Linked DNA regions of Homo sapiens: region 2 is linked to region 1. A link means that fine-mapping ties the variant in region 1 to the expression of a gene that starts in the linked region. Tissue or cell type: sun-exposed skin. Region 1 holds a variant in brackets; the other region holds the start of a gene. All regions are shown on one strand. Distances are between the middles of the regions.

Region 1 (8,111 bases):
AGAGTGTACTGAAGCCTACACTTTCCGCACCCACCAGTGGCCTGACATGCACAAGAGTAAGTTAAGAAGAGAACGTGTTTGCCTCAGTTTACCTTTGTTTAAAATTCAAGAACTTCTTTATATTCCATAGCTTGAAAAAACTCATCATACACTTAGAATCTATTTTGTTCTTAAAACACTTACAAATTTCTCCAACGTCAGGGTGGAGAAGGTCATATAAAGGATATTGAGTTCTCAGTATTCTTTGGTGAACTAAAGGTGACCACTAGCTACCATTTATTGACTGCCCACTTTGTAATAGATACTGGTTCTGTAGCACTCCATGCCAGATATTACATGTTGTATATAATATAATAAAGTTAGTAGCGGAACTTTCTAAAGTTGAGAAAATTCTCTTATGATTATTGTATTTACATTCAATTTGGGGTGAAAATGCACAATGATTTGAGAGGGATAATATACCCAATATTATATTTTATCTTTGAAAAATGTAAAAAAAAAAGACAGATTAAACTTTCTGACTATAAAACATAATATTATATTTTCTTGAAAGAAAATATTAACAGCTTAATGTGGCATTACATATTATATACAGGCCCATCAAAAAATGAGACAGGAGTTAACATTGGTGTATTAATTTGCTAAGTCTGCTGTAATAAATGCCACTGAATGGGTGGCTCAAAGACAGCTCTGGGGGCCGTTAAGTCCAGGATCAAGGTGTTAGTAGGGTTGGTTTCTTTTAAGGCCCTTCTCTTTGGCTTGCAGATGGCTGTCTTCTCACTCTGTGTTCATGTGGCCTTCTGTACACACTCAAGTCTGTGTCTAACTTATTTCTTCTTATAGGGACATCAGTCATATTGGATTAAGGTGCACCCTAAAGACCTTTTCTTACCTCAATCACTTCTTTTTTAAAAAAAACAAATACCTTATCTCCAAATCTGTTACATTCTCAGGTACTGGGAGTTAGGCACTTAATGTATGAAATTTGGGGGCCTATAATTCAGCCCATAACGGTTGTTATTAGTTGGCACTATGGATTGGATAAGCATAAAAATACACATATATTTTGGGAATGGGCAGGATAAAAATTTGAAGTTACCCTAGAAGTTAGGAAAGTGTACACCAGTACTGTGAAGTTCCCCCAAATAATTACAGTATAACCAGAAATGTATCATGATTAACCATCCTGTTTTCCTCCGTTTTGAATTTTGAATTTCACATGTTTATATGTATGGCATAAAATATAAATGTAGGAAATCTTTTCTTTAGATTTTATTTGTTTACTTATGTGTATCGTAATCTATTGAGTAAAGAATACCTGTTTCACTACAGTGATGGTGATAAAGAGTGGCCAAATGTGAACATTTATTTCAGCATTAATAGACCAATTTTGTAATATATGAAAGGTATGTTCAATGAAATGTCAGTTACACTCCCCTTCTTTATAATTTCTAAATGGCTAAACACATTGATATATCAATGTTTATGCTACAGTATAAAGGGAAGAATCCAATCCCTCACAAAATGATTACAATGTTTGCTATAGTATCAACAGCGTAAACTTCCAGGACTGTGTTGTTAGGCACTGAAGTCACATAGTGTCCTTTTCTTCCTGCCATCAGGGTCCTGAGGTAAAATTTGGAGAAAGATAGGAGGAGAGCAACAGCTTGTTTCACTTCCTCTACTCCTTCCACACTGCACGTGTTTTAGAAACCGGGCTAATGAAATTTACGTTCTATTTTCGAGGCTGTGCTCAGTTATTTCTCAGGAGGTCCAGTAAATAAAGAATTAATCTATTTGTTTTGTCTTTAGTCAAGTTATGAAACTAGCGAATTATTTACATTAAGTGGATTTGTTGTTGCTGTCGTTGCTGAAACTAGTGAAAGAATCGAGTTTTGTGCTATGAGTCATGGGAGCAAAACGTGAGTATTTAGAAGTGGAGAGGACCACGAAGAAGGAAGCCCTGGTGACTTGAAGAAATCATGGAGAGTTCTCCGGATTCCCACAAACCTATGGGGTTTAGATTCCAGCTAATACTTACACGGGTCTCAGAAGGACAGAGGGCAAGGGTTAACATCTGGCTGATATTAAAGTCTCTGCACCTCTTAATATTTTACTTTGGCCTAGTTTTCTTTTCTTCGCTTTTACATTTCCTGATATAATGAGTAATTCTCTTTTGAGTATTAACTTGTACCATGAACTATGCTAAATATTTTTACCCCTAAATGATGAAGAATTTTTATCATTTTTTGCTGAAATAAATGAGCAAATGAAAGATTGTTTACCTGGGATTATAGTAAATGGTAGAACCACATTTTAAATTCAGCTGGGTCTCACACACATTACAGACATTCAAACAATGTGGAAAATAATATTGAAAAAATAGATGGTTGGCCGGGTGCGGTGGCTCATGCCTGTAATCCCTGCACTTTGGGAGGCTGAGGTGGGCGGATCACGAGGTCAGGAGATGGAGACCATCCTGGGTAAGATGGTGAAACCCCTTACCCTCTACTAAAAAATAGAAAAAATTAGCCGGGCGGGGTGGCGGGCGCCTGTAGTCCCAGCTACTCGGGAGCCTGAGGCAGGAGAATGGTGTGAACCCGGGAGGCGGAGCTTGCAGTGAGCAGAGATCGCGCCACTGCACTCCAGCCTGGGTGACAGAGCGAGACCCCGTCTCAAAAAAAAAAGAAGAGAAAAAATAGATGGTATGTTCAGCATCATCAGAAGCAAATTTTATCAGCATCTCATCTTCTCATTCTCTATGGGGCCGGGATTTAATAGTGTGTAAACCGTGTTAGCAGGTTAAATGCAGGTGTTGTTAAATTATAATTTACATGCTGTACTGTACAAGAACAAAAATAATTCTAAAATTTTCAGATTATTGTGCTACAAAAAATGACCATCGTTAGCAAAAGGAGGATGGGGAATGAGACTTATGCATTTTTAAGGTCATTAAACATCTCCATTAGCCATCTCTGGAGTGGTGACTATCACATTAGAAGGGGACCGCTTTGCATCTCCTAATGATGACATTTCTATCCAGCTGTACTGAAATAGAAATAATGTTAAAAGGAGTCAGAGCGCCCAGTGGAGAAAATTTGACAGGTAAAGAAGAAAAGAGAAAGGAACAAATAATGGGCTGCGGGTTGAATTTTATGAACATGAGCAGAACTTTGAACATTTTTAAGTATAGTTATTCAGGCTAGGTG[A/G]GTGGATTGCATCCCCTTCCAACTTATTCTGAGGACAGTACCCAGAGTGAACATATTAAATGTATGTCAGATCACACCGCTATTCTGCTCAAAAGAATTTTCCATCTTCCCATTTCACTTAGAATATTAGCCACAGGCCTCAGAATGGCAAAAACAGAATTACCCTGTTGGTACTTAGCTGAACTCTTCTCTCACTGTTCTCCTCCAGACACAGCTGGCTTCCTCACTCTTTCCGGAATGTGCCAGGCATACATCTGCCCTAGGATCTTCACACAATTCCACCAGGATGATGGTATCCACATGGCACTTTCCCTCCTCAAAGTTCATTTACATTTCACTTTCTCAGTGATGCTTACCCTGACTACCCTATTAAAATTGCAGCTCACACTCCTCAACCTTGACATTACTAATCAATTTTAACCTGGTCTATCTTTTGTTTTCAGTGGAACTTATTACATACTGGAATATGGAATATTGTACCATTTGTTTACTATCTTTAGTCTTTATGTTTAAACTTCCTGGAATGGAAACCCCATGAGTAAAGGAATCTGTGTCTATTTTGTTCACAGACGTATTTCAAGCACCCTGAAAAATGCCAAGTACTAATTAGGCATTCTGTAAATGTTTGTTGAATAAGACAATGAAGAGGCAAATTAAATTAAATACAAAATAGTTTGTTATCCAGGACATTTCTGACTGTATAGCCAAAGCTTTAAAATGAAGATAAGAATAATTTTATAAAATGAATTAGACACATATCAACCCTAGGGAGAATCTTCAAAGTGGTCTGCTCCTTTGAAAAGCCTTAAACAGGAAAGCTTTTATTTAAAGAATGGGCTGGGCATGGTGGCTCACACCTGTAATCCCAGCACTTTGGGAGGCCGAGGCGGGTGGATAACCTGAGGTCAGGAGTTCGAGACCAGCTGGACCAACATGGAGAAGCCTCGTCTCTACTAAAAATACAAAATTAGGCAGGCATGGTGGTGCATGCCCATAATCCCAGCTACTCAGGAGGCTGAGGCAGGAGAATCACTTGAACCCAGGAGGTGGAAGTTGCGTGAGCCGAGATCACACCATTGCATTCCAGCCTGGGCCACAGGAGAGAAACTCCATCTCAAAAAAAAAAAAAAAATGACACTGTGCTTCTGGAAATAACCTAATTATTACCAGAGGAAGGAATTCATGTCTATGCCATACAAGAGCTTTCACCCTTTAGAAGTGTTTTACGGAAGGTCACACACACACACACACACACACACACTGATCAAATTGCGGAATTCTCTGAAGCATACAGAGAATGGCATTTATTCTGGCAAGAACTGTGCAAATTGTTACAAGAAACATAAGGGATGGCAAGTATGAACAATTATATTTCAACAGATGCAGGAAGCAGTTGAAATATGGCTTCTCAACATCTGGGGCTTGCATACTTGTCATCTGGAAACCAGATTGGGTCAGTTACATGTGGAAAGGAATAAGTTATTGCCAGGCCAAATTTCCATATTAAAAGAAGTCTCCATTACCAGATTCTTTTTTTACAGACACCAAATAGACCAGGGAGTTACTAAAAATGGAAGGAGGTCGTGAGAAAGCAAGTCATACTATGAGTAGGACCTCACCTTATGAATTGCCTCTTTAGCAAAATCAACTGCAGAAAGGAAAGACATTGTCTGTTAAATGAAAGGTAATAAATGGAATTCGCAGGTGGACAAAAATACCTCCTGAAATCCCGTAACCCAGCGGGGTACAGATGAGACACGCCCTCTGCAGATACAGTGTGCAACTACCAGTGTGACTCTGAGTGCCCGTTTTCTGTCTCTGCACCGAAGCACCAAAAGCAAAGATTCCAGGCTGAAGCAAATTTTTTTTTTTTTTTTTTGAGACGGAGTCTTGCTCAGTTGCCCAGGCTGGAGTGCAGTGGCACGATCTCGGCTCACTGCAAGCTCCGCCTCCCGGGTTCACACCATTCTCCTGCCTCAGCCTCTCGAGTAGCTGGGACTACAGGTACCCGCCACCAGGCCCGGCTAATTTTTTGTATTTTTAGTAGAGACGGGGTTTCATTGTGTTAGCCAGGATAGTCTCGATCTCCTGACCTCATGATCCACCCGCCTCGGCCTCCCCAAGTGCTGGGATTACAGGTGACAGACACCGCGCCCAGCCAGTTTTACAGCTTTTTATAAAGATAAACATACTTATATGATGCAGCAATTCAATTTCTGGGAATTTATCCAAGAGAAAACTTGCTCACACAAAAATGCCTGTGTACAGCAGTTTCATACATAACAGTCCCACCCTAGAAACAAAAGTCCATCAACTAGTGATCAAAGAGATAATTTCTGGTATAACATGCAATAGGAATACTACTAAGAAATAAAAGGGAATGAACTACTTACCTGCACAACAACTTGAGTGAATCTCAAAAGTATTATAAATGAAATAAGCAAGAGACAAGACACTACATATTATATGATACCATTTATATAAAATTCTATGAAAGGGGCTGGCCGTGGTGGCTCATGCCTGTAATCCCAGTACTTTGGGTGACTGAAGCCAGAAGATCACTTAAGCCCAGGAGTTCAAGACCAGTCTGGGCAATATAATGAGACCTAGTCTCTACAAAAAATAAAATTAGCAGGGCATGATGGTGCGCGACTGTAGTCCCAGCTACTTGGGTGGGTAGGGCAGGAGGATTGCTTGAGCCAAGGAGGTCAAAGTTGCAATGGGCCAAGTTTTCCCCACTGCACTCCAGCCTGGGCAACACAGTGAGACCCTGCCTCAAAAAAAAAAAATTCCATGAAAGGAAAAACTATGTTGATATAAAGCAAAGTAATGCTTGCCAGGGTCCAGGGTCAGAAAAGATAGTGATTACACAAGGAAAAAAAGAAAGATGATGGAAATGTTCCATAGCACGGTTGTTGTGGTGTTTACATGATTGACTTTACGATCCTTTTGTTATGGATGAGTTAATTTTTAAATTCCTTCCTTAAACTAACAAGTCTGCCTACTTTTATCTTTGATCTAAAATTAGTACTGATGTTTTCCATTTGGATTGGTTAAGTCTCTTTTGACTGAAGCTTGCTCAGTGCCTAAATAAGTGATGTACATGAAAAGCTTTCTAGTCCTCTCCTACTGATCTCCATCGGTTAGCGCCTTGCCATGATTAATCCAGAGCTGCGGGATGGCAGAGCTGATGGCTTCATACATCGGATAGGTAAGTTTTATAGAGTGAATGAGAAGGAAGTAAAGGAAAGATAAAACAAAATACAGGACAGCTTAAAAATATGGACTCTTTACTTACTGTGAAAGTCTACTAAAGTAAGTGAGGGATGGGGAAGCACTTCCGGAGAATTGTGGAAGCCTGTTAGAGCATGTAGAGTTTTATGTCTGCAAGAGAGGGTATAAGCTTGTGTGTAAGAAGGTTTTGGGGCAGAATTTTATGGTACGTGTATTATATCTCAATAAGAATATTTTTAAAATGTACTTTCACAGGGAAAAAATTGCTTAACACTTTTATACAGAATAAAAAGCAAATGCTTCACTCTGGAAGGAGGCTTGATGATTGTGACTTCATAAGACTGAAAAGAACTTTTCAAAAATTTTAAGATTCAGCTAAGGCCAACAATGAAGTTTGTTTTCAGTGGATTGAAACATAAACAAACCAATAAATAAAAACAAGGTACACATACAAACACCCTCCATTCACAATAGTTCTGAGGGTTTATGTTAAAGAAAACGAATGAATTGTATGCCAAATGACTGGAATAGGAAGCCTGCCAAAACTTTAAGATAAAGACAGTGAAGAGATAAAAAGTAAAATCTTGAAATGAGTTAAGGACTCCAGCTGAAACCACTATCAGAGTTTACTGATATGAATTCCCAGGGCAATTGGGATAATTCTTTTAATAATAAGTAAGCCTGATACTCTTAAAGGTTGAAGAGACCTCAGTAGCTACCTAGTAAAACTTTTCATCTACCATACGATTTCTAGCTACAGCATTTCTAGCAGCCTATACTAGAATGTTTTCAGTGATAATATCTCTCTGTCTTAGAAGACTTTCCATTTTAATTTAAGGATGTTCTATTTAGAAGTTTCTTTAGGGTAAGGTTAAATTTACTTCGTTGTATATTCTAACTATTGGTCATAGTTACGAACTCTTGATCTATGAAAACTTCATAAGAAAATTTTTAAAAATTAGTCTACATTTTACACAATTGGACATTAGTATTACAAAAAGAAATAAGATTCCATCCCTTTAGCCAAATAAATTAGTCAGGCTTGTCTGGGTAACAGATTTAAGAGTTTAGAGAGTAAAAAGTGGAAGAAAATTTATCTCATTGCATAACGAGAAGACAAAATATGAAGTACTGTGAAGCATGTACTGGAAGATTATGAGAAAGCCGGGCTGCAGGAATCATTAGAACATCTAGTCTGAGAATTTAATTAAAGCATAATAAAAATGCTCCAAAAGAAAAGATATTAATGAAATGAAGAAGCACCAAGAACACAATAAAAACCAAGTGAAAATAATAATTATAGAAATATAGTGTTTGAAATAAAGAACACTTTGAGGAGTTAATTAATAGAATGGACGCTGATTAAGAATGAATAAGACCTAGGAGATGCTATTAAAAACATGACAGAAAAGAAAACAGTTAGAAAATATAAAATAAAAGCTGAGAGATATGAAAAATAGAAGTAGAAATGCCACCTTCTAGATAACAAGAATCTGAAACAGAGAGAGAGAAAAAAAGAATAGCGGATAGGAAATATTTGAAGAAATAATATTCCAACTTCTAAAACTAATAAAAGCCAAATACCTCAAACTGAAACTTCAAAAGTGTACAAACAAAATAGATAAGAAAAAAACATGCATCTGGCACAATAGAGTGAAAGAAAAATAT
Region 2 (8,111 bases), 54 kb after region 1:
AGAATTTATGATTAAATGAAAATCTAAAAATAAAAAGTCTAGAATCCCAAACCAAGGAGATACTACTATTATTAAACGTTTTGGATTGTACTGACATAGACTTGTTAATTATTTGGTGGTGTTTTTGAGGACCTAAAAATGATGTCTTAAATTCCATATAAATTATACATACAAATACATATTATATATGATATAAATATTTGTTATAACATATTATATAAAATATAAATATATACAATGTAAACATATATATTATTCTATACATGTAAATTATATAGAAAGAATAATATATAAAATGTATATATCTATGTCAGGCACAATTACGTGTGTTATTCAATTTAGTGACTCACTGCTAAGAAATAAAAGAGGGAAAGAAATATTTATTAAAATTCTATTATATACCAGTCACTGTACTGGAAATATCCACATTTTATTTCACCTTACACCTGTAATATATTATATTTTTCTGGGTTTGACTCTTTAGACAGGAGTCAGTTTCAGCTTAGGTAGTATTAGATCTCCAATTAATGATGCTTATATGACATCTATGCTATAGTATTTCATCGCATTAGAGTTGGCAAGAATAGCTTCCTTATAAAGGAATAAACAAGTAATCTCTAGAGAGGTTAAACAGGGGCATGTATAATAATCCTCTTTCAATTTTATCTACTTTTTTCCACATATTAGCACTTTTGAATAAATTGGATGTATACACTTTTTTCACAAAACTATGACAGGTTCCTTTTATATGCAGACATCATATAATTAATATCTCAATCTACAATCATTTTAGTCAGTTTGCCAGGCTAGTGGCCAAAGAGAAAGCAAAGTAATTTGAGATACTCTGATAATTATTCCCTATTTTTTATTCTTTTATCTATAAACAAACATTTAATTTCATCACCTTGGTTGTACATTTCACAAATAATTTGTCTTCTAAGTCATAATAAAAGTGCTGTTTCTCAAATCTAATTTCTGTGTGGATGCTTTACTTCAATAGGTTTTATGGATTTACTGCATTTGATTAGATCTATAGTATATACTTAGAGAATTTACTGTATGTAGTGTACCTTTTGAAATTTGCTACTCAATTGTCTGTATTACTAAGTCCAAAATAATTTTCTTTCTTTTTCTTCCCTGTAGATATTTCTGCTGTTCAAGCAAATATGGAAAGACTTCTACTTAATTGAAAATCGTCAAAATACATTTCTGCAATTTTATGAGAAAATATCAATCAAGGGTATATGGATCTGTAGTTAACAAGTGCTCTTTCCATACATGCCAGGGAGGGAGACTTTAAACTTCTTGCCAAATAAGATTTATAAAAAACTGAACAATAGACCAAAAATTAATATTTTCATGTAAGCCATGATTTACATACTATATCAAGCCAGGTGAACAGAGAGCTGAGTACATGAAGTGCAGTATGCTGGCCTATCCTAGCACTGCTTGGCTAGATGCCATTGGCTTACACAGGGCTATATGAAGAAATTGTCTTACAAAATCTGCTGGTGCTACTATTGCAAGAACACTAATTGTATTATTTTATGTGCTTCATGAGAACTCAGGAAAATATTTTTTCTGATTTAGGATCAAGATTAATTATATCAATCTTAAGGAATAGGTGTAACTTTATCTTATACACAATGTGAACTGAACAACTGGTAAGAATTCCCTTAGGTCAGTAATAACAAGGAAGCTTGGAAGCAAATGTATAGCAAGCACAAACATGCCTACAGTAATTTTTCTGGCCCAATTTATTTTCCCAGCCCTATCCTTCCTTCATTCATAATTTAAATGGATATTATCTTATATTTTATGTATCAATACTCAGATTTTAAGTCTCTGTACACATTTGTATATTAAAAAGTAGTTTATAGATTAAAAAATAGTAAATTTAGTTTAACATCCACATAAAAGCATCATCAGGTAGATTTTTCTTATTATATATCAAAGTATTGAGATTTAAGAAGGCTAAAAGCTTCTGCCCAGAGCCATACATTTAGTCTGTGGGCTTTAGGGTCTGAATAATTTTTTTTGTTTTTTTATATATGGAGTCTTGCTCTGTCACTCAGGCTGGAGTGCAGTGGCATGATCTCAGCTGACTGCAACCTCCGTCTCCCGGGTTCAAGCGATTCTCCTGCCTCAGCCTCCCAAGTAGTTGGGATTACAGGCACACGCCACCATACCCAGCTAATTTTTTTTGTATTTTTAGTAGAGACGGGGTTTCACCATGTTGGCCAGGCTGGTCTCGAATTCCTGACCTCAGGTGACCCGCCCACCTCTGCATCCCAAAGTGCTGGGATTACAGGCATGAGCCACCGTGCCTGGTCTGCCTCAGTCAATTTAACACCAATGGTACTAGTTTTTGCTGCATGGAAGTAAGTTACTATTGAAAAAGTAAACATTTGTTTCATGATATTGAAACACAAAAAAGATCTGAGTCTTCAGATAATAACAAAAGTGTCATTTTGTGGGGGCAGGGGGTGCAGGGGAAGTTTGCATTTGCTAGATATAAAATGAGATTGTACACGAGAATGTTCAATACATATGGCAGAACTGCCACTGCGACTGGTAATTCTGAATTTCTGGCCTATGTCATCTTAACTTAGGTCTTGGCTATTTCAACAAGATTGTTTTCAAAATTCCTGAAAAAGCAAACAAAGCCAACCACAGAGCAGCCCTAAGGAGCAAAGATTAATGTTTTTTTGTTTTTTTTTCTCTCTTCTCGCATTCCCAGTAGATTGTTCTACCAATCCTATAGGGCTTTTACGAAGATTAAAAATATTATATATGTATAAGCATAAATATATATATAAGCATATATATACGCTTTAAGTTTATATAAACTTTAAGTTTTGTAGGAGGAAGTTTCTGTAAAAACACAATTTTTCAGCCTTTTCTTCGAAAGTGATGTTCTTATGCTACAACACACAGGATTACACATCGTCATATTCGCATTTCTCTTACCTCATGGCTCTGAAAATGCAGACTTTTTATTGTTGATGCTTTCATGAATCTAAATAATCTAACAGACAATTTATGACCATTTTTATATTCCTTATTATGATCAATGTTAAGATGTTAAAAATATTCTAAGATAATTCTCTTCCTAGAAGAATAATGAAATTTTAAATGCGGTGATGGGGAGCAGTATTCCTACCTTTAGATTTCTGCTTCGATTTACAACGATTCTTGAAACTCAGCGTCATATACCCATCTTCATTCTCCATCTCTTCAAATGTCTAATGTCTTATTATCCAGAAAATAGTACAAAGAAAATGGAAACTAATCTCAACCTTGGATATGTCTCTTTGGCACAAGGTACTAAAAGAAAACTAAAAGGAAGGCCAAAAATAGTCAAAATTTACTCAGACACAGATGTCTAAAACCACACAGGATGTGTTGGTAAATGAAAATGGATATAAGCTTGTTAATATCTGGCTACAATTCTGTGAATTTCAAGGTAAAGGTAGCTAGTGTGTTCCACTGTTTTCAACAAATGGACTTGTGTGTTCCTGCCACTTGTGTGCGGTGTATTAGAAACATAATTCCTTCCTTCATGTCTTTTATAATAAAGTAAGAGAAAAAATAAAATAAAACAAATAATCTCTAAACAAACAGAACAAATGTCTAGGTAAATAAAAATTCAAATTAAAAAAGTTAAAATAGCAATTTTGTTATTTGGGACATATTTGACTAGTAGAGTCCAAATAACGATGGTTAGATGGGACAAAAATAGGAAAATAAAAGATCAGCAAGTCTCAAGTTAGTGAAAATCGGAATCACTTGCAAAGAATTTAACTTTTTAAACTTTTTTGTTTGTTTGTTTGTTTTTCAGAAAACGCCAGGCAGATTTTCCTTCAGTAGGTGTGGCAGTTTATTTTGTGTCAACTTGGCTGAGTCACAGAGAGTCCAGATAGTTGATCAGACATCATTCTGCTTATTTCTGTGAGGGTGTTTTTGGATGGGATTCATATTTAAATAGGTGACCTTTGAGTAAGGCAGATTTGCCTCCTCTGTAATGTGACTGGGCCTTATTGAGTCAGTTGGAGCCTTGAATAGAACAAAAAGACTTGTCTTCCCTGAGTGAGAGAGAATTCTCCAGCAATGGCCTTCAGACTATCTGCAGCATTAGCTCCTCCTGATTCTACAGACGGTGGACTTTGCATTTGAATTGAGCCTTCCTAGGTACCCAGTCTGTCCATGCTCATTTGCAGAATTTTGACTTACCAGCCTCCATAATCACATTCCTTATTTTATATATATTTCACTTAACACGCACACACACACACACACACACACACATGCTAATGGTTCTGTTTCTGCTACGTGGCCACTCAATATCAATCCATTGATTTAACACCGAGTGTCTGGGGAAGGTGGCTGACTGTTTCCCACAGCACATGTTGTGTTCACCTGATTATTGAGTCTCCTCCTCAACACTGGATGTCACTTGTGAGTATTTACATGGGAATGAATATTTACACACGCCGCGTCCATTCTGCATGATCTCTATATGTACCTCTTAGCTTCTCATTCATTTTTCTATTTTGTTCTTTTTGAGTTTCCGACAAGTCATCTCACCTATTAGTTTCTGATAAGATGATTTAGATGTATTTCTCTGAGTGCTTATCCTTCCTGTTAGGTTCACAACCAGACATATTGTCCAAACTTCTGTTCAGTGGGAAGACTTACCTTCACTTCTGTCTTTCACAGTCTTCTCCTGAATGGGACTGTAGTGTGGCATCTATTCCAGCTGCCGTATTTTACATAACCACTGATAAACTTATTTTTTTCAACTACTTCAGTGTAAGATCGTACAGAACCCTCTTTTCCATCCCCAACCCGGGTCATAGGTATGGTTGAGGTGGAGATAGCAAAGGAATGCGAACATGTGCCATCGGAGTCTGAGCCATCTGCTCATGCAGTTTACTGTGCTTCTTTGGAACTGTTCAGGCCTTGCCTCCAAAATGGCACAATTATGTTTGTGATAAAATGCTTCTGTGCACTTCTAAACATAGGGTTCATTGGGTCAAAGTGGTCAAGTTGGATCAAGTTAATGGTGGTGAACATATGTCTTATAAAAATATGTAGTAGGTTTACTGCCTACTTTTCACCAGGAACAGTTGGCATGATAGCATCAATGTAATGAATCTATTGTGTGCAACCAGTTCTGAGGTATAACATATTGGGAGCTATATCAAGATGATTTAGTTCCCTCTGGGCCATCTTATAACAGAGATCAGGAGAGCTGACATACACCTGGGCAAGGCAGCAAAGAAATACTTGTTATTTCTGTTTGTAAATACAAGCCGGAAACCATCACAGGTTCTCAGCTTTTTCCCAGTGTATAGTCATTCAAGAAAATGACTGAAGTTTCCTCCGGTTTAGGTGTTGGGGAATAAATATCATAATTACACCTGTGGCCATGTTACAATGTCCTTCACCAAGAGACCAAACCTACCTCCTCCCCAGTTGAGTGGTTCCTGGTCTGCGAAGAGCTTTGCCTACTAACTATATGGAAGTCTGGGGATTGGGTAAGACACAATGAATCTCCTCTCTGAAAATACGGGCTAAGTTTCTGGGCAACATACATGTAATTTTCCTTAGCATATCAAGCAGCTCCTTAGTGAAATATCCTTTTTTGTTTGTTTTTCTTTTCTTTTCTTTTTTTTTCATTTCCCAAAACTTAAAATCAGCTAATCATTGTCACAGATTTCTGTGGATGAAAACTCTGATTACTAATCATTCCCTCTGGCTTATTGTGGCAACTGCAACCCCTTGACCTCTAGAATCAAATTATTGCCGTTGATATCAGAAAGCCTGATTCCGCTGTAGCATCTCCCAATACATCTATAGTCAACAGTGAACAGTTGCCACAGCAGGTCGTCACCAGGTTCCCTCACAAAAGCATTCTCCATCCCCCCATCCTCCTAAAAAATCGGTTCACAAAACTGACCTTGAAGAGAGGAAATCAAAGCCTGGAGGAGGCTGTAGAAAGGAGAGAGAAGGTGGTCAATGACTGCCTAGCCTCCTCACTGTATAAAAGGTAGCAACTTTAAAACTGTTCCCCCACCCTCCATCCTGGGCGCCAGACCCCTCAGTTCTACCCAAGGGCCATCAAGTACCTTCAGAAACTTCTCTTCCCTTTACCTTCTATGCCTGGGCCAATTCTCTCAGTATGGGTCTAACAGATTTGGTGGGATTGAATGCTGAAATATTTTAGAGTATCAAAACTTGAAGATGTCTAAAATTTGTATCTTAATGTTTTTCCCAAACTATAGATTTATTCAGTGTTCTCTATATAGTTAGTAATTAAGTTCTGTCAGTTTAACCCCCTGCGTATTTCCCTAGTAAATTCATTACTTCCCATTTTAAAAGCCATCATCTTGGCTCAAACTCCGTGTGGGCTGACATTATTCCTTCATGGCATTTAGTCTCCTTTTGCCCTCTCCCCTTGGCCCATATAAAACAAAAGAGTATCTTTAAGGGTTGAGATACTCAATAAATCTGATGCCCCACAAATCCAAAATAGACATAGAAAATGTGCATCTTTTACAAAATTCATATCCTCATGTATGAATTAGTTAATAAAAGGAAGTCTCCATTCTCTCCAGAAACGTTACAACTTCTACGCTTCTGAAATTTAGAATTTCCCACACCCATACCAGATTATCATTTTAATCTTAAATGGGCATTTTTTTTTTCAGACAGGGTCTTGTTCTGTTACCCAGGCTGGATGTAGAGGTGTCATCATAACTCACTGTACCCTCAAACTCCTGAGCTCAAGTGATTATAGACACATTTTTAATCTGATAGGCTGCTGCATTGTTTCACTTTAGATTTCTTGGATTTTCATTGTGTTTAGACAACTTTGGATACACTGACTGTATATGCATTGTTATGGGTTAACTATTTGTGCCTTGTTCATTTTCTGTTACTAATGTATTTATGACTATTCCTCTGTATATATTCATTCGTATATTGATTCATTCAATAAGACTTTTTGAATATATGTTATGCTACAGCCACAGTTCTAACCACTGAGAATACATCAACAAGTAAAACAGATAAACCCCTCTGATTTCATGACTTCGTGGAGCTTTCACTCCAGTGGCAGAGACAGAGACACATGTTACCCATTGCCCAGGAGTTCATATATGTTTTAAATGTGAGTTATTTTTATTGTCTTATGAAGCTCAGTTAGTGGTGCTGTCGTGTAACCATCGTCCAATTAGAGCTTTCATCTACATCCAAAACAGACCTTTCTGAGAACCAACTAAACTTTATTCCTTGTTTATCAGCAGGTAATAGGAAATATCTTAAACAGCCATAGACATGAGCCGAGGGAGAGGTGCCAGTGAAACAGTTGGATAGTATCATTAGTATCATTTCTGAAGCTTGCCTGTGCTCTCTGGTTGGCATAGGGGTCTTCAGCTTGCCTTTTCACTGAGAATCTGCCTGTGCTGATTCTGGATATACCAATCTCATCATATAATGAATTGCTGCTGGGAGTGCCTGAACTTATATTTGGTGAGTCTTACAGGTTTCTCTTTCCTTTTTTTCTTGAGAGGGAGTCTCGCTCTGTCACCCAGGCTGGAGTGCCATGGTGGAATCCTGGCTCACTCAACCTCTGCCTCCCAGGTTCAAGTGATTCTCCTGCCTTAGCTTCCTGAGTAGCTGGGATTACATGCACCCACTACCACGCCAGGCTATTTTTTGTATTTTTAGTAGAGACGGGGTTTCACCATGTTGGCCAGGCTGGCCTTGAACTCCTGACCTCAAGTGATCCACGCGCCTTGGCCTCCCAAAGTGCTGGAATTACAGGCATGAGCCACTGCGCCTGGGTGGGTTTCATTTTATTAATGGCAGTTCAGAACATACGGATGCCTGCTGACTCACATCCAAGTAATCTATTTCTGCAAGGTCCAGTAGCATGCCAGGAGCTATTTCACAAAAGCTCTATAAATGCTTAGCTATAATTGACCTGGTATTGCTCTAGGACTCAAAGGATCAGTAGAAATTATGTTTCACCCGTTAGGACTTGGCCATAAATTCCACAAAATTTTTTCTCACCGTTGATACCTCTGGTATTACACAGTGCGGTA

What was found. PIP is the estimated chance that this variant, and not a neighbour inherited with it, causes the effect.
Region 2: it holds the start of KLRF2, and the variant in region 1 is fine-mapped to the expression of KLRF2 in sun-exposed skin (GTEx, PIP 0.98).

Annotation. Positions count from the first base shown.
Region 1 is chr12:9,930,584-9,938,694 of GRCh38, reverse strand. It overlaps CLEC2A (C-type lectin domain family 2 member A), which reads left to right and starts at 6,325. Exons shown (of 5, transcript NM_001130711.2): 1 at 6,325-6,420. The coding sequence starts at 6,366. It overlaps LINC02470 (long intergenic non-protein coding RNA 2470), which reads left to right. Exons shown (of 5, transcript NR_104634.2): 5 at 1,881-2,116. The variant A/G (reference allele first, on the strand shown) is at 3,210.
Region 2 is chr12:9,876,718-9,884,828 of GRCh38, reverse strand. KLRF2 (killer cell lectin like receptor F2) reads right to left here and starts at 3,340. Exons shown (of 6, transcript NM_001190765.1): 1 at 3,164-3,340. The coding sequence starts at 3,233. It also overlaps a transcript of CLEC2A not described here.